4 separate regions of the Homo sapiens genome follow, and all the other regions are reported to be linked to region 3. The links are microRNA targets in miRTarBase. Many come from high-throughput screens and were not tested one by one. Region 3 holds a microRNA gene; each other region holds the end of a gene's coding sequence.
Evidence for each region. Region 3 holds the annotated microRNA hsa-miR-1272 (GAUGAUGAUGGCAGCAAAUUCUGAAA, at 2,095-2,120, shown strand). A microRNA usually pairs through its seed, bases 2 to 8, with sites in the 3' UTR of a target mRNA and lowers its output. Matches are read on the target gene's strand: a 7mer-m8 pairs with bases 2 to 8, a 7mer-A1 pairs with bases 2 to 7 and ends in A, and an 8mer does both.

Region 1 (7,703 bases), not on the chromosome of region 3:
TCTCGTTTGTTTTATTATTTGGATATAGCATATGTCTTTCACACAGGCAATCTTTCTAGCCCTCTACTAATGTCCTTGGCATCAAGTGCTTCATTTCCCCCAGGAAAATGAAGGCTTTTCTTTATCGAAAACTTATCTTTAAGGTATCTTGTCCTTCGCGAAGGACATGAACAGACACTTCTCAAAAGAAGACATTTATGCAGCCAAAAAACACATGAAGAAATGCTCATCATCACTGGCCATCAGAGAAATGCAAATCAAAACCACTATGAGATATCATCTCACACCAGTTAGAATGGCAATCATTAAAAAGTCAGGAAACAACAGGTGCTGGAGAGGATGCGGAGAAATAGGAACACTTTTACACTGTTGGTTGGACTGTAAACTAGTTCAACCATTGTGGAAGTCAGTGTGGCGATTCCTCAGGGATCTAGAACTAGAAATACCATTTGACCCAGCCATCCCATTACTGGGTATATACCCAAATGAGTATAAATCATGCTGCTATAAAGACACATGCACACGTATGTTTATTGCGGCACTATTCACAATAGCAAAGACTTGGAACCAACCCAAATGTCCAACAATGATAGACTGGATTAAGAAAATGTGGCACATATACACCATGGAATACTATGCAGCCATAAAAAATGATGAGTTCATATCCTTTGTAGGGACATGGATGAAATTGGAAACCATCATTCTCAGTAAACTATCGCAAGAACAAAAAACCAAACACCGCATATTCTCACTCATAGGTGGGAATTGAACAATGAGATCACATGGACACAGGAAGGGGAATATCACACTCTGGGGACTGTGGTGGGGTCGGGGGAGGGGGGAGGGATAGCACTGGGAGATATACCTAATGCTAGATGACACATTAGTGGGTGCAGCGCACCAGCATGGCACATGTATACATATGTAACTAACCTGCACAATGTGCACATGTACCCTAAAACTTAGAGTATAATAAAAAAAAGAAAAAAAAAAGAAAAAAAAAGGTATCTTGATTCTCTCTGAAATTTTTTATTATTTCTGATGTTTTTTTCCAGGCTTGTAATGTGTCAAGGCCACTTATCTGCAGCTACCTTAGAAGTAGTATAATTGATCTATGTTCTCTCAAAAGCAATTTTTTCCTAGTCACAGAACTATTTCTTCTTTTACTACTTTATTTGTTCTAGTTATTACAGAATCAAAGAACTTCTTGAAAAGAGAATACTTTCCCATGATAACCAATTACTTTAGAAATACTCTGCATGACACTATAATTGAAATTAGATGCTAAGTTTTGTCCCTCAGTGGCTGAACACCCCCAACCTTTTAAAAAACAAAAACTTCAAAAATAAAAATTCAATATTTCTTTTTGTAAGCCATCTCTTGATTTTGCTATCACCACAGAAAAATTTGTAGAGATTTGACCCCAATACATCAAGTACTGCAGAGGCACCAAGACCTTTTCTGCTTCTAAAACTGCATTTGTGGATGTCACCAGTCTCTTAGGCTGAAACTGAAACTGCCCATGCTACAACCTTGGCGAAGTATGGAGACACCTGTGAGGACCTTTTTACTTTTTGAAAAATGGCAAGCCAAGGACTTAACAACTGCCAACTAAAACACAAATCCTTCACTTCACAAAATAAAATTAGATGATCATCTTAAAAACATTACCAAATGTGCAAGCTGAATATGAAGAGAAAGCCTAACTCAGGAATATCTTCCAGCCCAGTTTGCATTTCCATATAAACTGAACCTGCACCCCCTCCCTCCTTCAAATGTTTGCCTTTCAATATTTTGTTAGGCAGGCAAGAGTCAAGAGTCATGCCAACTCTAGTAATGTGGCCTCTGTTCAAACACCTACCACAGTGTGGCAAAGGGAAAACAGCATGGGCTAAGAGTGGCCTGGATTCAAATCACAGTCCTTTTATTTACTTTCTATGTGCCCTTGAGTTGTTTACTTTAGCCCCCTGGGCCATAATTTCTTTCTCTGTAAAATGAGAATACTTGCATGAATATGAAACACTGAGCAGTTAATAAATACGTGCTTAATAAATGTTAGGTTCTTTGTTATCCCTGCCAGTTCATCACTTTCAGTTCATCCATTGCCAGATTCTCTAACTTGCTGGCCAAGGTATGTTGATAATTTCCTATAGCTGCCACTCTTCTATTATCACCCTCTTCCCATAGCCTCTGCAAAATGACTGCCCATCCATTAAGCCTAGGGCAAGCCAGTCTCATTCCATGATAGCATGCCTCGCCACAGAAGCTTTTTGCACTTTAAGTCAGAGTGCCAAAGGCAGGCGTTGAAATTCATTCTTTGGCATTCTTAAGGTATAGACCAGAGCAAAGGCAGAGCTACTCAGCCACTGCTCCCTGGCCTCCAGGCAGACTGCTGGTCCCCAGCTCTCCAAGATAGGCCCTTGATCTGTGTCCCAGGCAACACACAGCAATCTCATGACATTTCTGGGACATATTTTCTACTGGGATCACAGCAGCTTTCTAGGGCTCTCAATAATCTTCCAATGTTTGCATCGGTGATTGTGGTATTTTCCCCCAAGAAAACCAGAGTCAAACCATGTTTCTTTAAAGGGACTGTGGCCCTATTAGCCATGCTTTCATGGCCAAAATCTGCACACCTGTCTGCTTTATTCAGGATAGAGCAGGGAGGCCACAGCCCTGAAACAAGGGCTCAAAAATCACTTCCTAGGTGAGGTCAGTAAGGCCTCACAGAGACTACTATTGGGGGCAAGCAGCAGGTGAAATGATGGTCACTTGACTCTTTTACTCCTGGTTTCTTAGCAACCTGGCCTTTGAGACTGGGTACAGTGGAGTGAGTTCAACCGGGCCACCTGGATATGCCTTGATTTAGAATGGCATCAAGTTTCCACTCAATTACTTTCAAAAAGGCTCTCAGTGTACTTGGCCTTACATGTTCCTAACTCACCAATAAACCATGTTTGGAATTCAGTCTTGAAAATGACTACTGCCTTTCAGTAGCACTGTTCCAAATGCATCTCTGAGTGGGTTTGCACATGAGTGTGCATGTACTCACTCTCTATCTCTTTATCTAGGTTTATCTGTCAGTACTATAATCAGTGCACTAACAGGGCCTTGGTAGAAGAGTGCAAGTAGGAAAGCTCTTTCCCTCACACTGGGCAACATTATAATTATACAGACGCTACAGACAAGCTACGGCCCAGGCATCTGCATAGAAACAAGTACTGATGCTCTTTCCAGCAACTTCCCTTCAACAAACAGGAATTAGAAATGTCCATTCCTCAGATTTCTGCCCCATTACACCAATTTTTAGGTCCTTTCCAATAATAGAGATAGCAAATGAAAGGGACCTGGCAAGGGTTTATGTCCTAACATTTTTCACTTGGTGGCAAATATTCAAGAAAAAGGGTAAAAGCCAACCCCCAGAAATGATGGCCACTAAAGCCACAAACCACAAGGTCCCTTGCTAGATAAGTGTGATATAATGGGGAAAAAAAACTTGCATAGGAGCCTGGGACCTGAGATCTTGTACTGGTGTGATCACTACCTTGCTCTGCCTCAGTTCCCCCGACTGGAAACTGGGCAGTTGTTAGACTAAATGATTTTGAAAAGCCCTTCCAATCAAGGGCTTATATGGATTGTAAAAAGAGTATTTTACTCAAGTGCTGTGGTTCTTGACTTTTTTGGGTCACGAGCCCATTTGAAATTTAGCAGAACATTATGGACTATCTCCCCAGAAAGGGCATATTGTCATGGAATTGTGCATACCATCTCAGGGGCATCATGGAGTTTCTGAGTCCATGGACACTGGGTTAAGAACTGCTTTTTTCAGGAGATAAAAGAGTTTATGTGCAGAAGGCAAACATGAAGCAGCAGTGACAGCTGCCTGGCCTCAATCCACCTTAACAATTTTTCTAGCATTTGACCCCAAAATAGAACTCCTACAGGACCAAACACAGTCTCCTTTTTTTAAAAAGAAATGTGTTCAGCTTTTGTTTGTTTCTTGATTGCTTGACAGGAAGCTGTCAAAAAAAAGGAGAAAGAATAATCCAAATAGACCTAGGCTTTTACATGCAAAACATGCTTTGCAGATTTGTCCTAAGTGGCTGCATGTAACAGCAGGAAGGCCACCTTCCTAAGTCCACATGGAGGTGCTGTGGGGGCATCACTCATCCCACTCATAGCCTCGCAGGAGCAGACGGGCTCTTGGCAACATACTGCAGCACCAGAGCGCTGACATGGCACCAGTGTCCATATCCTCAGTAGGAGACATGTTGAGATTCTCCAATGTTCAGCAAACATTTCTATTCCCTTCCAACCAAGGTAAGCAATGGCCCCAACTCAAGTGGCCTTCAGTTCAAGGTAAGACCCCTGAGATCAGTCTTTAGCCCCAAATCTCTCAGAGTTCAATGGCCCTCTGAGGAAGCAGGAAGTTCAGGGAAGAGTTGAAAACTGAGCTCCCCTCTTCAACTCAGGTAAGTGGATATCTTGGTTTTGGCAGAGTCTGGCTTGAGGGAGTCCAGCTCTTCACAGTGTTATAGGAACTCAAAACAGACCTTCTGAGGGGATGAAGACAGAATACAAAGGAGATATAAACACCTGTCTAGGACATATGCTCCTTATTTTATGGCCTCCCAGAGAGAGTCTGAAAGTGCAAGGCTAGGAAGGAGCTGCTCTTCAACACAAAATGACTCCGCACACAAAGGTTTGAAGAAGAAAGACTCTTTCAGAACCTGGAAAGGGTCCTCTGAGGCCAAGGCTTTTAAAACCTGAAAGAGAAAGAAGAGAGTAGGGAATTAGCGAGGACTGGTCAAGTACTTAACAGCCACTGATCAGTGGGGCTTCTCTTGGTAGGTAGCTAAGCCTATAATTGGTAGCTCATCTTCTGAGCAACAGCGGATTGCTGGGCAAAGGCTCTTACAAGTCAAATCTCATGAAACAGGCCTAAGATGGTGCTATGACCAGGGCTGGACACTTTGTGCCTTTGACCTCAACTCAAACTCCCCAAAATCTACATGGAGAAATAGAAGCCTGATACTAGAACCTCTGAGATTTCTTCCCACATCATGCCCACTGCCTTTATGGTCATACAATAACTATAAACTTCCTTTTAACAGGGACTTCACCTCCATAGGGGCTGATAAGGAGAAGCTTATCTACCCACGGACCTCTGAGGACTGGCAGTGACAGGGAAAAAAAGAAGGTTAGGGAGCACATGAAAAGCCAAGCTCCAGATACTTGGATCTCATTTATGTGTGTTATCAGGTCACATCATGCCAGCAATCTGATAGTCAAACAATCAGAACTCCTATGATAGAGAAAGGAATTTCCCTGACCTCTGAGTCTCCTGTGACCTTTGCAAGTCACTTATCCCCTCTGAACTTCAGTTCCTTTATTTGTTGAGTTAGAACACATATTATCCTCCCTTCTCCTGGCATGTGATATGCATCAAATGAAATAATGAATGTGAAAGTGCTTTGCATTGGACAAACATAAAGGACTAAGAATGAAGGTTCAGGTGGGTAAGACTGAAATAATGATTTGGTCTGCAGGAATGAATCCATCTACAGACACTAAGGTAGCCTCTTGGCATCTGTTATAATATCAGAAAGCATGTTCCTGGTTTCCTTAAAGGCCCGAGAGGTGTCAGAGTTAGAAGGTTCCAACCTTCTCATTTTAGAAACTGGGAAACTGAGGCTCAGAGAAGTAAATGTACTTTCCCAAAATGTCACAGCCTAGGATTCTTAATAAATTTGATTCAAAGGCAATCTGTAAAAGCGTGCCATAGTTTGGCTAGGAGAAAAAGAAATGAAAGAGGAAGGTTACTTAAAATCACACAAAACCTTGGAATTGAAAGTCACTAAATTTAAGGGTCAGGCAGTGATAGAGTAATGAACTGAGGCGTAGAAGTGAGTTCCCACCCTTCTGATCTACATGTTATTCCAGTCCTCAAAATATCAGATCCCGTAATGAAGGCTTATGTGGAACAAGATTTTGTAATCAGGGATGGGGACTGCATACCTGTAGCCTCAACTTTCATCTCCAGGAAGTCTGCCTTGAGAACTGTGGATAAAGAAAGACGTTTCACTAAGATTCTAGAAATCAGGACTGGAAAGGTAAATTGGGGGAATGGGGGACACTTCTAGGCCAGTGCTAAAGAGGCCATTTGAAAAATGGAGAAGTGATTCAGCCCAGATGTTTCAAAACATTTAGCTCCATGCTTATAGTTGGGGCTCCTTCTCTGGCAGGCTTAAAGAGATGTGAAGACATCTTTCAGGTGCCAGAACAATTCTCTGAGTACCAGACTATGTGAAGCTTGGAGAACCCAGGGAAGCTGGCTGCAGACCACGAACTACATTCTGTGATGATCTCTAACAGGGATAAGGGTGAGGACACAGACAAGTACCATGTGAAAGATGAATCCTCCTTTGCCTAGAAGACCAAACCAACCTTGTCCAGCCTCTTGATGTGCTTGGATTAGTTCTAAATTACCCATGTCTGGGGACAGCTTGGGGAGGAGAAAATCTTGGCAAATGAAACCCACTCTAGTGTGGCCAGAGCATTACGTACAACAGCTGGTCCCCAGGGCTATGTCCTCAACCTTCTGTTTTTCTCTTCTCTCCAGTCTGTTTACACTTACTCCCTGGAGGATCTTATTCCCATCCATGGCTTCAATTGCCACCAAATACTAGGGACCTCCCCACAACAGGCTACTATTCACATTGTAGCATATGTGACTAGCCCCACTCCCCAGACTTATATAGTGGCTATACTCATATTTCTAACCCCCAAATCTATGTATACATACATCCAGCTCCAACTGCTAGCCTAAGTTGCAGTTACCCACTGAACATCTATCTCTACCTAAGTCTCAAAGTGTCTTTAAAAAATTTGTATAAATTTAACAACTGTGTCTTCAAAATCACTGTGTCCAAAATTGAGCTCAGCATCTTTCCCATAAAACCTGCTTCTCCATGATTAATTATTGTACCATCTACTTAAGTGCCCAAGTTAGACTTTTCTCTTTCTCGGTTCATCAATGTTCCATGTTTGAAAATGTAGCAAGGTCTTATTGAGTCTTTCTCAAATCTGTCCCTTCTGTTCCATTCCCACTGGGAATGCCATAGGCCAGGGCTTCCCCAACTCTTGCCAGGACAATTAGTCTCCTTAACTGGTCTCCAGTCTTTACTCTCCCATCTATCTTTCCCACTACCAAAGTGATCTTTTTACAACTTGGTCAGCTCAGAATGTGACTGTCATTCTTGAAATTCTTCCCCCCTTTCTATGACTCATCCGCATATGGACTGCAGTATAAAGACCAAGCACCTTAGTATGTTATACAATGCCTTCACGATCTGGCTCCAATCCATCTTTCTGGTCTCACCCCCAGCTAAGTTTCCCTCTTTTCACTCCCACATTCTAGCCAAAGTGGAACACTAATAACTTCTGAAACCATAAGCTGTCGGGCCTCTTTGAAATGTTCTCACCTCCTTTATGTTCTTGATGAGCCACTACTCATTTTCTTCTTAGTTATTTATGTTTAAATTGTGTAAGGGAAATGAATAAGGGGGTGATGTCATTCAAACGCTAGGCCGTAGTCAGGTATACAAATGGGGACCAAAAAGGGGCAAGACAAAGTTTAAAAAGATCATCATTTTCATTAGAGATGAGAGAAGAACTTAGCAACAATGACCATAGACGGGACT
Region 2 (7,000 bases), not on the chromosome of region 3:
TCAACTTCTTCTTCAAGTGTTTCTTCTGCTGATGAATCAGTGTCTTCATCATCATCCTCTTCCTCTTCTGGTCACAAAAGGCATAAGAAACATAAGAGGAACCGTTCAGAGTCTTCTCGCAGTTCCAGAAGGCATTCATCTAGGGCATCCTCAAATCAGATAGATCAGAATAGGAAAGATGAGTGCTACCCAGTTCCAGCTAATACTTCAGCATCTTTTCTTAACCATAAACAAGAAGTGGAGAAACTACTGGGGAAGCAGGATAGGTTACAGTATGAAAAGACACAGATAAAAGAGAAAGATAGATGCCCTCTCTCTTCATCTTCACTTGAAATACCGGATGATTTTGGAGGTAGGTCTGAAGATCCAAGAGATTTTTATAACAGCTATAAAACCCAAGCAGGTAGTAGCAAAACAGAAAAGCCATATAAATCAGAAAGACATTTTTCCAGTAGAAGAAATTCCTCAGATTCCTTCTGTAGGAATTCAGAGGACAAGATTTATGGTTATAGGAGATTTGAAAAGGATATAGAGGGAAGAAAAGAGCACTATAGAAGGTGGGAACCAGGTTCTGTGAGGCATTCTACCTCACCAGCAAGCTCAGAATACTCTTGGAAGTCAGTTGAGAAATACAAAAAATACGCTCACTCTGGATCACGTGATTTCAGTAGACATGAGCAAAGATACCGTTTAAATACAAATCAAGGAGAATATGAAAGAGAGGACAATTATGGGGAGGATATCAAAACAGAGGTTCCAGAAGAAGATGCACTAAGTAGCAAAGAACACTCAGAAAGCAGTGTTAAGAAAAATTTACCTCAGAATTTACTGAATATATTTAATCAGATAGCTGAATTTGAAAAAGAAAAAGGAAATAAGTCAAAAAATTAATACACCAAGGATATCGGCACCATTACACAAAATGCCATTAAGTGAAGTTTTTGGTTGTATTAGTCATAACAGTTGAGTGCAGAAATCTCTGCTTCTAAAATTATTTGTAGAGATTACAGGAAACAAATGCTTTTAAGTAAGTTTTTCTCAAATTTTGTTTCAGTTCTAGGTCCCTTGTCACAGCTTGGTTTTTAGACTTTTTATGTATATGTTTATGTACAGTATATTACTCTTGACAGTTTGAATTTCTTCACCTAAAGATAATTCTCTGAAAGTACTGTTTCTTCATTCTATTGCGGTATATGAGAATTCCTGGGTGCATCTTATTCTGCTGTTTGAGAGAAAAATTTGTGCATTGAACACTTGGATCATTTTTATAAAAATTAATTTCATTTTCTTTTCTGTTAAATTAAAAATCGTCAGCTTTTGAAAGATTATATGTTCGAATGTTTCTTGAACACTTTTATATTTATCAGTTTAAATATTACATTTTTTGCCCAATTTTTTTTAAAATTTTTAAATGGTAGATTATATGTCTTAATTTTCCTCTAAAGCCCAATTTGATTAAAAGTGGTTTGTGAACAGTCATTGGCTTCCACCCAGCATAAGTGCCTTAGGAATAAGATCATAAAAGTTGAATAGGAGCCCATTTTGCTTATTTCTCCATTATTTTTTACCTCATTGCTAGCATAGCCATAAAAAGCTTTTTAACTTTAAATATTTACAAGGCCCTTAGGGCCTGTATTCCACGCAAGGGTAAATCAGAAAAGAAAAAAATCCTTTTAGCAAAAACATAGCAGTAGCAGAGAAGCACATTGTAAATCTGGCTTTTCTTTAGGGAAAGAAAATTGGGAGACTCTCCTAGTGTAGCAGATGTTCAGTCCAGAAGGCACTAGGCATGTCGTTAAATCTGACCTGCATTTCTTCTTACCACCTCCTGTGCCTTGATGCTTCTCTGATGACCCCTTTCTCAGAGTCTGAATAAATAACTAGACCAACTAGAGCCTGGTTTTACTAAGAATAATAAATTCCAGCAGCTAGAGCTGAAGAACAAAGAGACTTGGATTATAAAGATCCTCCCCAAATTGCTGAAAATAGTGTGGTATATTCTTTGGGAGACAGATAGAGATAGGAGTCATAGGTACTGGGTTTATGATGTCATTAGAGTTTGCAGTTTAAGATTCTCAAAGCTGTAAATTACAATGGACTTTAGATACTGTCACACACAATGACACTAGATAAGTGGGTGGGTAGCTGAGGATCTACAGAGGTCTAAGTGAGGGAGAATAATAGAGGAAGAAGAGACTTATTCCTTGTTCTGTCTTGCAGTTCTTGCCAACAGTAAAATGTCCAGGCCTTAAGTACTGGGTGTGTATTATCTGTGTCTATCAAACTCCAGTAATGAGAGCCTAGTGAAAAATCTGAAATTTCTTTTGCAAATGGAACAGTGAAAAGAAACCCTGGTCAAGAGCAATAGATAATGGTGATAGAAATCGGCTAGTCACTCAAAGCATTAGTCTTTGCACCAAGAAGAAGCTTCTTTAAGAAATTCATCTTAAAAAGAGTCCTTAATAATTCTATGTATTAATAGCTCCAGTATCATCTTTACAAAGTCGTGTTTATAAAGAAAGAGTGAAAACTACTTCTTGGCATACATAGCCTTTGACCTTTTGGAATCCCTAGTTCAGCTTAAAATTTTAAACACAACATTTAAAAAATTTTTTTTTCCTTAATTAATTCATATAAATTTAAGGGGTACACATGCATTTTTGTTACATGGATCTATCGTGTAGTGGTGAAGTCTGGGCTTCTAGTGTAACCATCACCCAAATGATGTACATTGTACCCATTTCATAATTTATCATCCCTTACCCCCCTGCCAACCTACCAGCATTGGCGTAGGCAGAATTCATGATTCAGACCTCAAAAGTGGAAGCAAGAGGGGCTGAGTACAGTCACTCATGCCTGTAATCCCAGCACTTGAGGCTGAGGGAGGAGGATTGCTTGAGGCTAGAAATTTGAGACTGGCCTGGGCAACGCAGCATGACTCCATCCAAATAAGTTGGGTGTGGTGGTGCATGCCTATAGTCCCAGCTATGCGGGAGGATCGCTTGAGCCCAGGAGTTCGAGGCTGCAGTGAGCTCTGATTGTGCCACTGCACTCCAACTTGGGTGACAGCCAGACTGGTGTCTTAAACACAACAAAAACAAAATGGGACTTAAGTAAGCTACGAAGTTCTTGCACAGCAAAAGAAATAACACAGTGAACAGACAACCTGCAGAATGGGACAAAATGTGCAAACTATGCATCAGGCAGGGGACTCATCCAGAATTTACAAGGAATTCAGCAAACCAAATCACCCTATCCAAAAGTGAGCAGAAAACATGAATAGGTATTTTTCAAAAGAAGAGATAAAAATGGCCAAGAAGCGTATGAAATAATACTCAACATCACTAATTAGAGAAATGCAAATTAAAACCAAATGAGATATCTCTCATCAGTCAGAATGGCTATTACACCCCATTCAATGTAAGAGAATAGTACCTTATCCTGTAGGCTGCCTGAATTTATTAGGTAGGCGCAAAAGTAATTGCAGTTTATGCCATATTAAGCAGAGTATACAAACCAATTTCTAAGGAAGTTCATCACAGCAAAAATTATTGGGGATTTACATTGTCAAGAATAGCGACATCTTCAGTAATTTTTCTCAAGATCATATATTGCCATATCTTGGTCTCCATAAGCAGATGAAGCATGACTTTTGGATATGAGGATAAGTGTCCAGATTTGGAGATAGGTTGATCCCCTGTCGCACCATTTGTCATTACTACACTGAAGTTGTTAGAACTGTTATTTAAGGATTAAATGTAGATTCGTATGCTGGCCCAAGAACCAAACCATTCCACAAATTCTGTGCTAAGCTCCAGGTGGCAACTCAGTAAGTAGAAGTTATATAGTGCAATTTCTGTGTGTCAAGCCCTGTGCATCTTTTTTATATTATCAAATTCGGTAAACTTGTAGGTAACTTTCTGTGTCTATAGTACAAATGAGGAAAACAGGGAAGTAACTATCCAAGGTTACAGAGCTAGTAAGATACAACCTCTACCTTCATAGAAGAGTGTTTAATATTACTTCAAGTTTTAAGTAATTCCCAAACTAGCACAGGGCTGAGAATAAGAACTTTGATGAGCAAAGTGACTTTAATTAGTTTTTAGGTCTTATAAATCTCATGCATTAGAGCAGTACTTTAGCCAAAAATTTTATTACCTACCTTTTTTTTCGCCCACCTTATTCTTGACTTTGCTATGCCTTTTTCCTATTTCTAAAACAAAACAAAAAATAATCAGGAGAACTATTCACTACCACTACTGCTTTTCAGAAAGAAGTACAAACAACAGTTCTAAAATAATGACAGTTGTAATGAGCATTTTTTCCCAAGGTTTGAAGGAGACACATGTACATTCGTGAATTCTAATACATTTATTTAAAATCCAGTTTTATAATATTCCACACTCTATTCCAAGAGTACAAAGTGTTGGGCACATGTTATAATGAAGTGTTAACTGGAAAAACTACTACATTTGGCAGTCTACCTCCAACTGTAAATGAAATTTCTATTGCAAATCAAGTCATACCTAGCTTTCATTAAATCGTTTATTAAATCAAGAAAATTTCAAAATTGTTTATACTTGGTTGGCTGTATCTGAAAGCAAATCTTTAATGCGTTTATTTCAAGGTCAGAAGTGATTTATTTCAAGGTCAGAAGTGATTTTTCTAAATTTATGCTGCATTTTAAAATTGATATACAGTGTTTCTCTTACCGGTTTTTTTTTGGGGGGGTGGGGTGGGTAGGGGTTGATGCTATTTTTTGGTTAAAAATTATAGCAAAAGAAGAAACTGCCTTTAACAATTTTTCTCCCCAAAAGTCTGAGAAATAGTTACTTTGAATAAAGAAAACCTAATTTTGGTGTCTTGTAGGGTAAATGAGATTTTCACATTGCAATACGCTCATAATAGTACAGTAAATCTTTAGAAATTTCTTCTTGAAAGATTGTTACATTAGAAGTGAGTGTAGTTTCGTGAAATAATGAAGCAAACTATTTTCTAACACTACGAACATCAGAATTACAGTGAAATACAGCATTTTTCCTATGCTTGTATAACATGTAGCCTTGTCAAGAATCTGCTATTAATTTCTTCAGTATGAAGAAAACAGTAGAGAAAATGAGAACGTTCCTTTTTTTTTAAAACTATCAGTTTTTACACTTACCACTAAGTTTTTACACTTTCCACTAGATAAAATGTGTTGGGTCGTTTTGTATTTTAAAGTATATTTTTGTTTTTGTGTTTACAACTTTTTCAGAAGAGATTAAAATGTTTATTTGCTGCTCTTTTTGCTCTTAACATTACTAGAGCTACTACTAGCACTAGATGGCCTAGAAGGGCTGCCTACTAGTGAAGAGGAGGCCGGGAATTTAAGCTCCAGTACTTTAATTGAAGACTGAGAAGTAGATGTACTTGTACTCCTAGATGACCTAGAAGAAAAACCAGAATTATAAATTCAATGCAAAGTTTATATTTTAGTATAGACCCTCTCATTATTGGCAAAAGGTACCATAATTCCATAAGTAAAGACATCAAAAAAGTACATATTAATAGTGTTAAGTTTTTAAATGACCATCAATAGATATCAAACAATTTAAACAGGAAAGGAAAGATGAACATAGATGAGTTTCAAACCAGTAGAAAAGTAGTTTAATAAGTATGTTCCTACATGGTAAAAATGCTTTGAACTATAATCAGTTTTTTAGAGTTGGAATCATTAAGCATTGAAAGTTTCCAAAACAGAGGAAATAGGGCCAAGAGGATTTGGTGCTGGCAAAAATAATTAAAATGATACCTTTTGTAATTTAAGCTGAAGAGAAGAGAGAAGCATATTGATGGATAAAGTGGTGGGGTCATTTGAAAAACAGCTAGCTATATAATTCTGAAAAAAGTTTTAAATATATATTTTATGAAAGTACAGGGATGTTCAGTTATATAGAAACAGTTTTTTATACTTAAATGAAACACTTTTTTTAGGGGCCTCTTCATGAAATTTTTACCTGGACTAAGGAATAGTAATTTAATAAGTAGCTGCTGAATGCAGGAGATTGTGAATTCTAAAATCAGGATCATTATTAATAAATTTTTGTCAGCAAAGCACAAGAATGTTTGCTTAAGCATCTGGTGATAGAATTCTGGGTAACAACTGCAGAAGAAAAAAAAAGGGGTTTCCTTTTTAGCAAAATAAAGCTTCATAAAGTCAAATCCTGATTATGTAAAATACCACAGTGTGGTTTGAATCACAAAAATCATATTCTATATGTCTGTACATCTAAGCTGCCCTTACATGTTTTTAAAAAAATTCCCCCAACTTGGGGGTTCACCCCCAAATGCTAGATGTAGCCCCCAAATTTATTTCTGTTTTATCCTACTGAAATAGCTCATAGTCACAGAGCACTTGGGCTATACTGGAAATAGTGACACCAGCAGAAGTCAGAAGGAAATTCTTGTTCTGCTGGCTGTTTCTGCATCTAATCTATATGATGCTGACTAGTGAGATGTCTGACAGTGAAAAGAACACTGGCAGTGAGTGCATGGGCCTGCCTAACAGCTGCGGTGATGTAGAAGTGGCTGGAATCACTTAGTGTACAGCTGTGAGAGTTAAGCAGATTTTTTTTTAACCCTCCGCTTACCTTGCTGATAGTGAAGTATGTGAAGGAGATCTAGAGCTCTGACGACTGCCTTTTGTGCTAGCTGTAGGTAGTTCTAACCCACTCTGGAGGAATATTCAATAGCAATCATTAGTACTACCTACTGTTTTTTAGAAGATAAATATTTTTAATTAGCTTTCACTTCATGATGAATGTCATGAAAGTTTTTATTTTCATGAAGTTTTTAAGAAATATTTAATAGAAGGTGCTGTATTACCTGTTGAAAGTATGTTTGAAGGATAATACGGATCTCAGTATTTTCTTCTATGATATCAACTAACATTTCATCAATAACTTTGTGAAACTGTTTCATTTCACGAAGTTTGATGTCTTGTTCTTCCATTGTTTCATCT
Region 3 (7,703 bases):
AGCTTGGGATGGAGGGTCCTGCTATGTTTGTGGCAGGGAGCTGCAAATCAGAATGCAGGTTGCAGAAGCAGCTTCTACCTCTGAACAGAAACCCCCTCCTGACAGGAGCATCATGTTAGGAAACATCTCTCCTGTCAGGTTTCATTCGCCTCCGTCAAGTAATGGGCTAGGTGTGGTGGGCTCGGGGCTGTGTGTTCATGCCAGCATAGCATCATGTGGTTTAAGGGTTGGAGGTATTGATTTAGGAGCTGGCAGTGAGGGGTGTAGGGGTCCTCTAGCCCAATGCCTTGAATCTAGTCCCTTCTGTAGGGTATTGTATGGCAGTGGCGGCAACTGCAACCCTTGCCAGGCACACAGGCAGGCAGTAGATCTGTGTTAGCTGGCCACACAGCACCAAGAAGGCTGCAGGAGGTGGGTGGGCCTGGGAGGCTTCCATGCCGGGGTGCCCAGTGAACTTTGCCCCTGAAAGCCAAGTCCTGGCCCCTGGCTCTGTCTGGATCCTGATGGAAGGCACGCTTCAGCCAGCCTGCCCTGACACAGAGTTTGCAAGCACAGCTCATTCTCTGTTTGGTCTAGTTCCCTAAATGAGGTGTAGGTCAAGTGCACACAACAGGCTTTGACCAGGTGTGTTCCCACGACATTAAGGCTTCTCTTCCTGGGGCTGGAAGTGGCTTGGAGAATGAGGCCTGAAGCCTTCTTATACCTGCCCAGCCCTGTCCCTCCTTTCAGATAACTTTTCACCCTGGCTTAGTTCCCCCCAGTCTCTATTCCCCCCACCCCTACACACACACACCATTGGAAGTCTAGGACACATTGCACATTATGAGGAAGAGCCCCAAACTTTTCAGGCAACTTGGACTTAAGCCTCAGCTCTGCCACTGGCCAGCCAGGCACTTGATCCCTGGACTGACTTCTGCATCTGTAAAATGGGGACCCCATACCTGTTCTACCTGTTGCTCAAAGGACTATGAGCTTTGCATGCTGATGGTTTGTGTAAAGGAATGAAACTACAAGGTGCAGCCCAGGATGGGGCCTTATAGCCAGGCCCTGATAACATGGGATTTGGGGCAAGAGGGATAGCAGGGGCAGGCAGAACACCAGATCCCACCTGAACCTGGGACTTGTCCTTACTAGGTGAGGCTGTGGTGACACTGGTAAACTCTGGGGCCAAGTGTCCTCTAGATGGGGGCTTCTTGCAAGGGGATCTGGGCATCGTCCTTGCCTGGGTAGCTGAGCCACCCCAGAGCTCCTTGCAGGAAGCATGGGAAACATGTTGTGGAGTGTGTGGATCTAGGTTCACATCCACTGTCTGGCTGTGTGCTGCTTGCTGTCTTCCCCTGTGTCCTTATTCAGAGCCTTATAAGTCCTGGGTCTGCAGGCCATGTCGCCACATTCCATCCACCTCACGTCAAGTGGCCATACTCAGAGGGCCTTCTTTCCTATGGGAGGCGTAAGAGCAACCTGCTGGTGCCAAGCCTAAGCGCGGGGCCCAGGCAGGACCCAATCCCCCAAAACACTCCCACCCCCACCCCCTACCCACTACGGCGACCAAGACCACACCAAGGGTATGACTGCCCTGACGTTTCTGTTCGGCAGCCCTAACGTTGGCTCTGCAGAGACCCCCCTCAAGTTCCCAGGCCCAGGTCGGTCTAGGGCCCAGAGCTGGCTGGCCCCTGACTTCCATCTTGTCCCCTTCTCTTCTCTGTTCACACCACTTCTTTGCCACCTTGTGTGCAGAAGGAGTCACTGAAGCTCTGAGCAGATGGAGGATGGTGGCTGAGTCTTATCTGAGACTCAGTCGCATTCTACTGCCCTTTAAAACGCCTGGTGTCATAGAGTGTCAGTGTGTGACGGGACCTGAGGCGAGTCTACTCTACTGTAGCTGAGGCTGACAAGCGAAGGCCACAAAGCCACCTGCTATGGCTGGTGACAGGGCTGGGGCTTCACCCTGGGCTTCCTGACGTTGTTTTGAGGTTCTTTGTCTTTTGTTTGGAATCTCGTCAGTGGGTATCTTCTGAGCTGGACCCTGAGTGCAGTGTCCTGGTTCTCAGTGGGGTCTCTTTCCCTTGGGGAAGCCAGATCAGATCTGGGTGCGATGATGATGGCAGCAAATTCTGAAAACGTGCTCAGTGTCTTTATAACAGGAAAGCCGTAAACTTAGAAATGTAGGCTGCAGCTCGTGTGCTCTGTGGTCTGGGCTGGTAGGGATGGCTGGGCCTGCTCCAGCACCCATCCCCAACCTCCCCATAGCTAGTGGGGCACAAGGCCACTCACACTCAGCTGTGGGGAGTTGACAGTCTGTCAGTCAGTCTCGTCGTTGGCCTGTAACCATGTAGGATTCACCGTGGCATCATCCAGTGGGACCACCCCCCACCCCCCTGCCATCGCCACCATCACCATCATACCTACCCCAACCTTTTGCAAGATACTGTGTCTGTCCTCTTTGTTCATGAGCTGAAGACCAGGCCAGGCGTGAGTCACTTTGGGATTGCAGGAGGATGGCTTGAGTCCAGGAATTCGAGATGAGCTTGGGCAACATGGTGAGACCCCACCTCTACACAAAATTAAAAAATTAGCCGGGAGTTGGGCACAGTGGCTCATGCTTGTAATCCCAGCACTTTGGGATGCTGAGGCGGATGGATCACTTGAGGTCAGGAGTTTTTGAGACCAGCCTGGCCAACATGGTGGAACCCCATCTCTACTAAAAATACAAAAATTGTCGGGCATGGTGGTGGGTGCCTATAATCCCAGCTATTTGGGAGGCTGAGGCAGGAGAATCACTTGAACCCAGGAGGCGGAGGTGGAGGTTGCAGTGAGCCAAGATCATGCCATTGCATTGCAGCCTGGGCGACAGAGTGAGACTCCGTCTCAAAAAAAAAAAAAAAAAAAAAAAAGCTGGGCTTTGTGGTGTGCACCTGTGGTCCCAGTTACTCAGGAGATGGAGGCAAGAGGATCGCTTGAGTCCAGGAGGCTGCAGTGAGCCATGTTTGCGCCACTGCACTCCAGCCTGAGCAACAGAGCAAGACCCTGTCTCAAAAAAGCCGAAGGCCAGTTGTTCCTGGGTACCTTGGGCTGGCCCCACTGGGTCTGAGTGGGTTGGTGTGAGATCAAGGTCTGCAAAAGAGCATTGACTCGTGAGCTGGGCACTTGGGAACAGGCTGTTTCTGACATGCTCGGTAACTGCGAGCAACTCGCTCGACCCCTAGGCCCTGGTTTCCTCCTCTAAAAATAAGGTTTCTTCCAGCTCAGATGTTCTGTATTTGGGTTGCTACTGAGGGCTGGGAGTTGGGGAAGGATGTGGGAGGGGCTTATAAGAGGCTCGTTTTTCCCTTTTTGGATTTCTCTCCTCTTCTCACCCCCTTCCCAAAGTAGTGTTTTCCATCGGGATGACACCGGGAGAGCTCGCTCGAAGCAGTGGGTAGGGGACTGCTGAAGCACGTGCATTCGTTACTTGAACATTGTGAGTGGACAGTTGAAACAATTCTTCCTTTCCAGATTGAATTCTAACTTTTAGAGATGCTAAAGGGTTGCTGCAAAAGTCTTTTTTTTTTTTTTTTTAAGGATATTTCTATTGCCTGCAGTGAGATTTTCCTGGGGTGTCTTTTCTCCAAGTCCCAATCCTGTGAGACAGGAATTTACAGAAGGCCAGAGTTGGCCTCTAGGGGTGACTGTTCCTGGTGGGTTGGTGGGTTGTCTGTGGGCAGGGAAGAGTGGGGAGTGGTTCCAGTGGTTTCTTGCCTCAGTATCCTTGGTGGAGAAGGGTCTGTTTGCTTTCTTTTTTTTTTTTCGAGATGGAGTTTCACTCTTTTTGCCCAAGCTGGAGTGCAATGACGTGATCTCGGCTCAGTGCAACCTCTGTCTCCTGGGTTCAAGCGATTTCTCCAGCCTCAGCCTCCCGAGTAGCTGGGATTACAGGCGTGCGCTACCATGCCTGGCTGATTTTTGTATTTTTAGTGGAAAGGGGATTTCACCATGTTAGCCAGGCTGGTCTAGAACTCCTGACCTCAGGTGATCCGGAGAAGGATCTGTTTTCTAGGTGGTGGTTCCTGGAGTCTGGGGTCCTTTCGTGGCTATTCTAAGGCCGGGATTTGTCCTCCAAACTTAAAGCTTAAGAGACTTTAATATCCCTGAGCCTACCACTGTTTTTGAAAGCAGTGTTTACCTTTTCCATCACTAATAAAAGCCAGCACTTACGGAACTTGTCCTCATGGTCACAGTATCTGAGAAGTTTAGAGTTGGATCCCTCAGCATCGGGCTTGTCCTTCCCCTTGCAGAGGGAGACACGCTTCTGGTGAGCGGCCAGGCCGCAGCCACTTCTGACCAAGTGTGGGGTCCCCATGGTCGTGGCTCCTGGCCGACCCCATGTCCCAGTCCTGTTCTTCATGGAGGCTTTGCTCAGCTGCTTTGGCCCCTCCTTCTCCCCCACGAGCCCATTCCCTATTCCTGCAGGACCTCCATGTGAGCTGGGCCCTGTGTGTGCCCTGGAAGGAGGGACCCTAAGCATCTGCTGTCCAGGGCACTGGCCTTTTGTGGCAGCAGCTTGAATGCCAGGTCTGCCCATGGCAGTGTCCAGGGCCAAGAGAGACGTCTACCTGAGCTGATAGACACAGGCCGAGTAGGCCTGGCGCGGTGGCTCACGCCTGTAATCCCAGAACTTTGGGAGGCCAAGGTGGGCAGATCACTTGAGGTCAGGAGTTCAAGACCATCCTGGCCAACATGGCGGAACCCCATCTCTACTAAAAATACAAAAATTAGCCGGGCATGGTGGCGCGCTCCTGTAGTCATAGCTACTCCGGAGGCTGAGGCAGGAGAATCGCTTGAACACGGGAAGTAGAGGTTGCAGTGAGCTGAGATGGTGCCACTGCACTCCAGCCTAGGTGACAGCAAGACTCCATCTCAAAAAAATTAAAAAATAATTAAAAAAAGAAAAACAGGCCGAGTCCCTTTCCACGCAAGCCTGGATTTGTGCTGGTGTCTTGGGTGCTCCTGATACTTTGCTCCTGAAGGGTTGTTTAATTTGGTCTTTTCTGAAGATCCTGAAACAAATGTCAGTTTGTCTGAAGGAAGAACATCACCGACACGTAGATGGGAATGGGTTTGTCAGAGCCCCTTCTTCTTACTTCTCTTCTCTAAAAAATGACCCCTTAACCTCTAGGCTGGAGAGGGCTGTGGAGGAAGAACATTTGGATGTCAGCTTGCAGCTCACACCTTCCTGAAAGAGAGGGCTGGGTGACCTGGGCAGCCTGGGCAGGCTCCTCCGTCGTGGTGGGATTAGACAGCATGGTCCAAAAGCTCCTCCTAGATCTATTCGTACTAGGAGGGGATTCCCCATTCCAGGGGCCTCCAGAAACAAGGCTGAGGATGGGGGGCTCTACTTCCTGTGCCACCCAGGTGCTGTGCTCCCCTTCCCCAGGACCCCAGGGCTGAGTTACGATGCTGGAGCTGGGAGTGAGACTGAGGGGCCTCCCGGGGAGGTGGGGAGAGGTCAAGAGGTGGCTCAGGATGGGTGAGGTGGCTCACACCTATAATTCCAGTGCTTTGGGAGGCTGGGGCAGGAAGATCACTTGAGCCCAAGAGTTCGAGACCAGCCCAGGCCACAGAGTGACGCCCCATCTCAAAAAATAAAAATAAAATAAAAATAAAAGTTTAATTTTTAATTAAAAATAAAAATAGGTAGCTCCCAGGCACTCTAGGTCTAGCACTGGCTGGCGGGAGAGAGCTCAAGAACACACAGGCCCTTCTCCCCAAAGGAGTCAGGCTTATAAACAATTGGCAGCAAAGATCTAGAGGACTCCAGGAAGTGCCAGTAAGTGATAGCCTGTGGGGTCCATGGACCCCTCTCCCACCCTCCCACTCCCTGTGACTCTAGAGGCAAGACTTGCCTCAGAAAAGAGCAGCTCTGGGTGCCTCCAAAGCTTTGCTGGGCAGAGGCAGTTGTGCCAAAAGTTGGTCAGTTCCCCTAGGTAGGCCTGGCACTGGCTGGGACCTCCAGCAGGGCTGGGTCTGCTCCTGTGGGGTCATGAGAGCCACACAGCCATGTCTGTGGTATTCTGTATGGGTACACAACCCTGGCCACGTTCCTTGCCTATATTGGTGCTTGCAGCAGGTTCCACCAGAAGGGTTGTTCCTCAACAAGTATCTTTGACTGAGTTCTCAGAATCATCCTCCATCCGTTCCCCCGGTCTCCCCCATACCTGCTCCATGTGACTACAGGTGTACCTTCCAGCTGTGCTGAGGACCTGACTGTGCTCCCAGCATTTCTGCTCTTACTTGCCATAAGGGTGACTTTTTTGGAAGGGCTGTGGTTGCTCTTCACATTTTGGGACAGGAACCCTTGGGTTGCTGGATGCTTCTGCAGAAGGGATGAGAGTATGGAAAAGGGCCCAAGTGAATGCGTTTGGTGCCTTCCAGCAGCCTGAGATTGTGAGAACCACCCCTGTGCACTCTTTAAATGCTTTAAAACGTTTTGTGTATGTGCTGAATTCTTGTAATAAACCCATGGAATAGGCAGGACATGAGTTATTTGGTTGAACTTTCCTTGTCATCAACTAGTTGTCGGTGCCTGAATCCTTGTCTGCATCTAACCTTTTATTTTTTATTTTTGTTTTTTAGAGGTAGGGTCTTGCTCTGTTGTTGCCCAGGCTGGAATTCAAGTGGTGCAATCATGACTCACTGCAGCCTTGAATTCCTGGGCTCAAGCGATGCTCCCACCTCAGCCTCCCGAGTTGCTCAGACTTCAGGTGCCTTCCACCACGCCTGGCTGATTTTTTGTGGGGGGGGATAGGGCCTTGCTATATTGCCCAGGTTGGAGCATCCAGCCTGTTCCTGAATGTTTCCCCTGTTACCCTGACGTAGGTACCACAATGGTCCCCTGTACTGGCCTGAGACACAAGACTAGTTGGCTGGACCTTGGAGAAGTAACTGCATGTCTCTGTTCCTGCCATTGCTGAAAGATCCTGGCTGTGCCATCAGCTTGCCTTGTTACCCTGTTCTTGGCTTCAGTTTCCCCATCTATAAAACGAAGGGGTTGAACTAGCTGATCTCTGTGGTGTCTTCTATTTCGGGCATTACCTCCTCTGGGGAAGAGAAAAACTAAAGAATCTAGTGACCACCTTAGGACATCCTACCCACATTACCAGCTTCAGTAGACAACCTTAATAAGTGGCTCATGGCACCTGATGAGGGAGATCCTTGTGCAGGTAAATGCAGGAGCCCTAAATGAAGCCAGCATTTTATTGCTCTCACAAGTAATGGGGAGAGTAAGGTGAGCTCTTAGTCTTGGAGGTAGATGGTGTTTGTGTTGTGAAGATGAAACTGAGGCCAGGCATGGTGGCTCATACCTGTAATTCCACCACTTTGGGGAGGCCAGGGCAGAAGGATTCTCTGAGCCCAGGAGTTCAAAACCAGCCCAGGCAACATAGTGAGACCTCATCGCTACAAAAATGGAAAAGCTAGCCAGGCATTGTGGTGCACACCTATAGTCCCAGATACTCTGGAGGCTGAGGCAGGAAGATCTCTTGAGCCTAAGAGTTTGATGCTGCAGTGAGCTATGATAGCGCCACTGCACTCTAGCCTGGGAGACAGACCGAGACTCCATTTCCAAAAAAAAAAAAAAAAAAATGAGGCCGGGCATGGTGGCTCGCACTTATAATGCCAGTACTTTGGGAGGCCAAGGCGGGCGGATCACTTGAGGTCAGGGATTC
Region 4 (7,703 bases), not on the chromosome of region 3:
ATCATCTCTTATCTGCATCATTGACAAAAGAGCTTCCTGGTCTCCTGCTCCCAGTCTCAGCCCATTCAAATCCATCTTTCAAATGCCTACAAGGTGGTCATCCTCACATACATTTCTGCTTGTCACCATCCCTCCACTCCTTAACATCTTTCAGTAGTTCCTGATTGCCTGGAGTCAAATACTGAGTTCTTGGCCCAGCATAATAAGCAAGGCCCTCTGCAGTCAGGCTACTGCCTCCCTAGCCAGCTGTTTCTGTTTTAGTCTCTAGAACACAGATGTGTAGAAAAGGTGCATATGCCACTCAGACCTTCATGACTGTTCCTGAAAACTTGGTTTCTGCTCTCCCTTACCTGCTCCCTCTAAAGTTCCACTCTTTACCCAGCGAACTCCTATCATTTCTATAAGATTTGCCTCCTCCAAGAAACCTGACCTCTTAAGTCATACCTACATCCTGTGTTTGGGGGCCATTTTTTAATGTTGCAGGAATATTCTGCACAATATTTATCATTTGAGTCATTATAAATTGAGACTCCCATCTCAAAAAAAAGTGATATGTATATATATGTGTGTTTATACAATGAAATATTAGCCATAAAAGTAAGGAACTCCTGCCGGGCATGATGGCTCATGCCTGTAATCCCAGCACTTTGGGAGGCTGAGGCGGGCAGATCACGAGGTCAGGAGTTCGAGACCAGCCTAACCAACATGGTGAAACCCCGTCTCTACTAAAAATACAAAAATTAGCTGGGTGTGGTGGTGTGCGCCTGTAATCTCAGCTATTTGGGAGGCTGAGGCGGGAGCATTGCTTGAACCCGGGAGGCAGAGGTTGTGGTAAGCTGAGATCGTGCCATTGCCCTCCAGCCTGGGCAATAAGAGCGAAACTCTGTCTCAAAAAAAAAAAAAAAAAAAGTAAGGAACTCCTGCCATATGTGACAGAATTGATGAATCAGGATAATGGACAAATCGTGAGGACATTATGATAAGTGAAAGAAAGACAAATACTGCATAAAATAGTTAAACTCATAGAAGCATAGAATGGTGGTTGCCAGGGGCTGGCGAGAGGGGAAGTAGGGAGCTGCTGTTCAATGGGTATAAAGTTTCACTTATATAAGGTAAGTGCTAGAGATCTGCTGTACAACATTGTGCTTATAAATATAAAAATTTGTTAAGTGGGTAGATCTCATGTTACCTGTTCTTACTCAATAAAAAAATTGAAAAAGATGGACAGATCAGCAAAACATTAAGATAAGTCAGCCTGATATTAACCCATAACCTTAATGCTCCCCTAGGTCTCTTTTGCTTCTGCAGGTTAACTGGAAATCTTAGCAGTATTCTCACAGCTTTTGATGTTTTGTATCAGCTCTTTTATTTAACTCAAATATTCACCCAAAATAATTTAAGATTTTTTTTCACTTGCTTGTGAGAGCAACCTGTTTCAAATTAGCTTAAGCACAAAGGAAAATGATTTCTCCTCATAAGCAGGAAGTCTACAGTAGTTCCAGCTTCCACATGGCTGGGTCCAGATGTCCGATATTATCAGGACTCTCTCCATCTCAACTCCCCTCAGCTTCATCATACACAAAGGATCTCTGCATGTAGTAGGCAAAAAGCTGCAGGGAGCCCCAAACGCAGCTCAAGGTGGCTTAGCTGTCACTGTTCATATGGGAATCTCAAGGACGGGCATGGGGTAGGGGGGACACTGTGAATGAGACCTGCCGGAGTCATGTAGAGAGGAGAAGGGGCGAAGCTGCCCCTAAATAAATTAGGAAAGCATTTGGGAACTAATGCTGAGTTCATTCATGAGTTCACTAATGCTGAGACAGAAGCTATACCTATCACAGTCCAAACTCCAGTGCTCTCAGTTTTTGCTTTTTTAATACCTGCTATACTTTCACATTGGCATTATCACACAAATAACGTTTACTTCAAAGTAGTTCAGTCACCCAATTATAAAAACACTTGGACCAATTTAACCAGACTGTATGGGATATCACATATGAAATGTGTCTCTTTGGAATCATGGCCATTAAGGGGAAAAATAAAAATTAGCTATCTTTATATAGCATCCAGGGAGAGGAATCAGAACAAGGTAAGTCACCTGAGACAGCTCCCTGTGCTTTCAATTTCCATCCTCCAGCTGGATAAACAAGTACCAAGAGTACACTGAAACTGTTGCATCACTTTGCAGAAATAAAGCACCAAAAGGGATCTCCCAACACTCTAACTCCTTACATTCCTTATTTTAAAGTTGGAGTCTAAAACATGACCAACCATTAATTATCCACTCTACCTCTGCAAGTCCTCGACCCATGGAACATTCTTTCTTTCTTTATATCTTAGCTCTTGAACAGCCAAGAACATCATGTAACACATTGATAAAGACATATCCAAGAAAAACTATTTCATGAGCACCTATGTGACAGGCATTCTTCTGGATGCTAGAGACAGCAGTGAACACATTTCCCACAAGAACTTAACTCCACCTCTACTAAGTTATAGCTGTTGATTATCGAATATAGCCATGATTATAAGCTGTTTTTTCCACTCAATTTCACTATTACTTTTTATTGACTTCAACTTACTTAAACATTGTTCAACATAATTCTTCCATTACTTCCTAGGAATTTGTCAGTAACTCTGTCCTATTTCCTGTGAAGTAGTATCCTTAACATTGGTCCTTTGTTTTTCATATGTGGCTTTTTTTTTTCTTTTTATTGAGACAGAGTTTTGCTCTTGTTGCCCAGGCTGGAGTGCAATGGCACGATCTGGGCTCACTGCAACCTCCACCTCCCAGGTTCAAGCAATTCTCCTGCCTCAGCCTCCCAAGTAGCTGGGATTACAGGCATGTGCCACCATGCCCAGCTAATTTTGTATTTTTAGTAGAGACAGGGTTTCACTATGTTGGTCAGGCTGGTCTCAAACTCCTGACCTCAGGTGATCCACCTACCTCGGCCTCCCAAAGTGTTGGGATTACAGGAGTGAGGCACCGTGCCTGGCCTCATATGTGGCTTTCACTAGTAATTCAGTGATTATCCCCATCGGGTTTCCCAGTGGGATATACAATTCCTTTTGAATCATTAATTTTCTACAACTAAATACAACTAAATAAAGGGGAGATAGAAAACAATTTTTTGTTTTTTAAAAATTTTATATAGAGACAGGGTCTCGCTCTGTTGCCCAGGCTGGTTTCAAACTCCTGAGCTCAAGCAATCCTCTTGCCTTGGCCTCCCAAAGTGCTGGGATTACAGGCATGAGCCACCTCACTGGTCTGGTTTGTTTTTTTGTTTTTGTTTTCTTAAGATAGGGTCTCATTCTGTTGCCCAGGGTGTTGTACAGTGGTGCAAACACAGCTCACTACAGCCTCAATCTTCTGAGCTCAAAGGATCCTCCTGCCTCAGCCCCCTGAATAGCAGAGACCACAGGTATGCACCACCATGCCTAGCTAGTTTTTTTATTTTTTGTAGAAACAGGGTCTTGCTTTGTTCCCCAGGTTGGTCTCGAACTCCTGGGCTGAAGCAATCCTCCTGCCTCAGCCTCCCAAAGTGCTGGGATTACAGGTGTGAGCCACCAAGCCCAGCCTGGGAACAACTGTTGAGTGAAACTCTCTAAATCACAACTCTAACTGTAGTTTTTATTTTGAGAAATGGCTGGGCACAGTGGCTCAAGTCTGTAATCCCAGCACTTTGGGAGGCTGACGCAGGCAAACTGCATTAGCCCAGGAGTTCAAGACCAGCCTGGGCAACATGGCCCATCTCTAATAAAAGCACAAAAATAGCTGGGTGTGCTGGCGTGCACCTATAATCCCAGCTACTCGGGAAGCTGAGGTGGGAAGATCACTTGAGCCCAGGAGGTGGAGGTTGCAGTGAGCAGATTGTGCCACTGCACTCCAGTCAGGGTGAATGAGTGAGACCCTGTCTCCAAAAAAAGAAAAAAAAAGAAATAAAGAAAAAAGAAATAAAGTCAATTCAAATCCACAAATTACAATTTGACCCACAAGGACAACGACTATGTAGCTATAATAATTCAAAGCACAGCCTGTTATTTCTTTTGCTGTCTTCTTAATACTTAAAATATTTGCCATTTGTAAGATTACATATAGGTTTAAGTGATTGGGTGAATATAAATATTTCTGAATTTTTGCCACAGCTTAGCAAAATTTATAAACCAATGCTCGTCATCATCCAGGTAAGCTAGAAAACCAAGATTATCATTTTCTGCTTTCCCCAGGATGGTTCTTCATTATCTGCTAGTATATTTGTCTAATTCCTTTGCATGTTCATTTAACAAAGTTACTTTGCCCTCAAAGTAAATATCATAAAATACTACCCTTAATATTTACTTCTGATTACTTTACAAATGTCTAGTATTGGGCCGGGCACGGTGGCTCATGCCTATAATCCCAGCACTTTGGGAGGCCGAGGTGGGTGGATCAGCTGAGGTCAGGAGTTCGAGACCAGCCTGACCAACATGGTGAAATGCCATCTCTACTAAAAAATACAAAAATTAGCTGGGCATGGTGGCGGGCGCCTGTAATCCTAGCTACTTGGGAGGCTGAGGCAGGAAAATCGCTTGAACCTGGGAGGCATAGGTTGCAGTGAGCCGAGATTGCACCATTGCACTCCAGCCTGGGTGACAGAACAAGACTCCATCTCAAAAAAATAAAAAAATAAATAAATAAAGTCTAGTATTTTCCAATAGCAAGACTCACTATTTGGTCTCTCACATTAAATTAAGTGTACACATGGGATGCACTCACGTATTTACTCAGAACCTGCCATTCCATCCATCGCCAGAGGTCCAGGAAAAGATAAGAAAGAAAACATGCTCTGTAATGCTGCTGAATACTAGTTTTTACTGAAGACCAGGCTTCACTTAATTAAAACTGTACTTTAGAAATACCTTAGTAGTTGAGGGGACAGCAGGTGTGTGGTTAAACAAAAGGTAAAGCAAGCTTCATTGTCTAAATAAAATGACAAAATGTGATATATGTTTAACAACAAAAAAAACTTTATTGAATTACAAATTTTAAAATGGATCACTTAAAAGTGAGATTATTTTATTCTGAAACATTATTTCAAAAATGTACTTTGTTTTTGAAATAAAACAAAATCTTCAACTATGAACTGACAAAATAGAGGTGAGTTGGTACCAGTGGGCCAATTCTTAACACGGACATTTAAAAATGCTGCTTTCTGTATTACAACAAAATGATATGCAATAAGAAATTGGAAAAAGGGAGCAAAGGAGAGTGCAAAGCATGTACTGAGGTCTTTCTACGGGTGCCTGACAGAATGCAGATTCAGCATAAAATGTAGACTTTGCAACAGTGGCCTTTAAAGTATGCTAGAGCAAGTGTACCCTAGGGAACCTATGTCAAAACAATTTTTGTCTTACTCCAAACAGAAAAAATGGTACACACTTTAACAAAAGCAAAACTTAATTGTAAGATCTGTACTGTAAAGCTACTTGCTATAGCCCATATATTCAGTTTGTTCAACAATCTCACTCATGACAGAAAAAGTCAGCAAATAAGACTTGGGACAAAATTATTTTCTATCAGTCTCCACATGGAAAGACCACAGCTTTAATGAATTATACAATCCTTAAGATTAATCCTTGGTCAGTATAGATTTCCGAATCAAAATCTAGTCATGAACTGTTTACAATAGCTATACTACACTAAGATGCTAAACATTTTCTTTCCAGTATGTCTTCCTAAGAGGGGAAAAAAATAGTGGGAAGTTTTCATCTTTGCCTATGAGGGGATTTATGAAAAGCCTTCTAAACTACAACAGTGTTCTTCTGCAAAACTAAAACACATTATAAAGTCAAACAGGTAAATTAACAGGAAAACCAAACTGATCTCAATAAAGTCTTGTTTCCAAAAATCTATTAAGAACAAGTAATATACATGTACAAGAAATTACAAGAAATGATGATCACGGTTAGTTACAGATGCAAAATAATATCTAATATTCCAAGCTTGTGAACATAATAATTAAAATCAAATTCATAAGCTACCTCAAAATTATGTACATTTTAGATAAGCTGGTCAAGTATTATTTGAATACACACCATATTTGGTAAACCTAAAATTATATTACCTTTTCTCCTCCTTTAATATTTGTAGCTACATGCCAATATGGAAAAAAATGTATTTTCATTTATGTATTAATAACAGAGAGTAACAGAATTTCTACTGTGTATGTTTCACAGTGTAAAAGAAAAAAAGTTAAGGTATATTTTCCTTTAAGAAAGAAGAAATATTGCCAAGAGTTTAATTAATATCAACTTACTTATAAAAACAGAAAAAATATGTTTTGAAACAGGTACCATAAAATTATTATATGGTCTCCCTACTGATCTGAAACTACAGAAGGCATTTAAGGAAGGGATGTTAGGTCAAAAACAAAGTCTAACCCAAGTTGCTTTAAAAATTTGATTTGCAGGAAAACTAGTTGCTTGGCCTAGTTTAAAGCTAGTTACAAAATCCGTTTTCTTAATGGTCCAGATATTTTGCCAATTCTTCCAACTCAACAGAACTGTCAAAAAAGAAAAAATATTTTGTAAGACCTTTAAATACCAATAAGGTACATTCCCCATTTAATACAGCATACACCTGATATTGCTTTTAAAAAAGATGCATTTTTGAAAAAGATGCTGTATTTTTCACACATAATAATCACCTATCTTAAGTGCCTGACTTTCCCAACTTAGAACTACTAGGAACATACAACTAAAGAACTTGTATAAAACAATTTCAGCATTTTTATTAAATACCTCTTTATAATGTTTTTAAGGTTAAAAAAAAAAAAATAACAATTCCAAAATTGAACTTCTAAAATATGCCACTCTAGGCATCAGCTTTCTATCCTAAAATTGAACTTTCTTAAATTCAATTAAGTACTATGTCAAAACTTGTGTCACAAAGTGCATGTATTCAAAGCAAACTGCACTGTACACCTCATCACCATAATAAAAATGATCCATCAGCTGGGCACGGTGGCTCACACCTGTAATCTCAGCACTTTGGGAGGCCGAGATGGGCAGATCATGAGGTCAGGAGATCAAGACCATCCTGGCCAACGTGGTGAAACCCCGTCTCTACTAAAATACAAAAAATTAGCCAGGCATGGTGGTCCCAGGTACTCGGAAGGCTGAGACAGGGGAATCTCTTGAACCCGGGGCCACAGAACAAGACTCCATCTCAAACAACAACAACAACAAAAAAGATCCATCATGCAAAACAAATCCAAGAGAACAGGCCAAATTTTCTCAACACGATTGAAAAAGAAGGTGAATGTCCCTCTCCTAGACCAATGACAACTTCTGCAACCTGAGATGGGTAGGAAATACTGTTTCAAACCATGAAGACACTTTCAGTAGCAGTAATCTTTCCAGCTCAGAACTAAATCTTTGTACGTAATAAGGGTACTGGGCCGGCCACGGTGGCTCACGCCTGTAATCCCAGCACTTTCGGAGGCCAAGGCAGGCAGATAACCTGAGGTCAGGAGTTCAAGAGCAGCCTGGCCAACATGGTGAAACGCCATCTCTACTAAAAATACAAAAATTAGCTGGGCATGGTGGCACATTCCTGTAATCCCAGCTACTTGGGAGGCTGAGGCAGGAGAATCGCTTGAACCTGGGAGGCGAAGGTTGCAGTGAGCTGAGATAGCGCCACTGCACTCCAGCCTGGGCAACAC

Region 1: the mRNA of OPHN1 is a reported target of hsa-miR-1272. Seed matches in the 3' UTR shown: 7mer-m8 at 651-657.
Region 2: miRTarBase lists TTC14 as a target of hsa-miR-1272. The part of its 3' UTR that is shown has no 7-base or 8-base seed match.
Region 4: miRTarBase lists TCEA1 as a target of hsa-miR-1272. Seed matches in the 3' UTR shown: 7mer-m8 at 5,933-5,939.

What each region holds. Positions count from the first base shown.
Region 1 is chrX:68,042,398-68,050,100 of GRCh38, forward strand. It overlaps OPHN1 (oligophrenin 1), which reads right to left. Exons shown (of 25, transcript NM_002547.3): 24 at 6,019-6,060; 25 at 1-4,766. The coding sequence ends at 6,027. Among named protein-coding and RNA genes, the nearest start is that of NXTAR, 260 kb to the left of the region's middle.
Region 2 is chr3:180,609,652-180,616,651 of GRCh38, forward strand. It overlaps TTC14 (tetratricopeptide repeat domain 14), which reads left to right. Exons shown (of 12, transcript NM_133462.4): 12 at 1-1,479. The coding sequence ends at 891. CCDC39 (coiled-coil domain 39 molecular ruler complex subunit) reads right to left here. Exons shown (of 20, transcript NM_181426.2): 18 at 6,865-7,000; 19 at 6,630-6,712; 20 at 4,357-5,426. The coding sequence ends at 5,270. Among named protein-coding and RNA genes, the nearest start is that of TTC14, 11 kb to the left of the region's middle.
Region 3 is chr15:64,756,888-64,764,590 of GRCh38, reverse strand. MIR1272 (microRNA 1272) reads left to right here and starts at 2,076; the gene lies at 2,076-2,204. The region is part of intron 1 of RBPMS2 (RNA binding protein, mRNA processing factor 2); the gene reads left to right. RefSeq lists an enhancer at 1-848.
Region 4 is chr8:53,961,571-53,969,273 of GRCh38, forward strand. It overlaps TCEA1 (transcription elongation factor A1), which reads right to left. Exons shown (of 10, transcript NM_006756.4): 10 at 4,986-6,542. The coding sequence ends at 6,534. It overlaps LYPLA1-TCEA1 (LYPLA1-TCEA1 readthrough), which reads right to left. Exons shown (of 21, transcript NM_001425842.1): 21 at 4,986-6,542. The coding sequence ends at 6,534. Among named protein-coding and RNA genes, the nearest start is that of TCEA1, 57 kb to the right of the region's middle.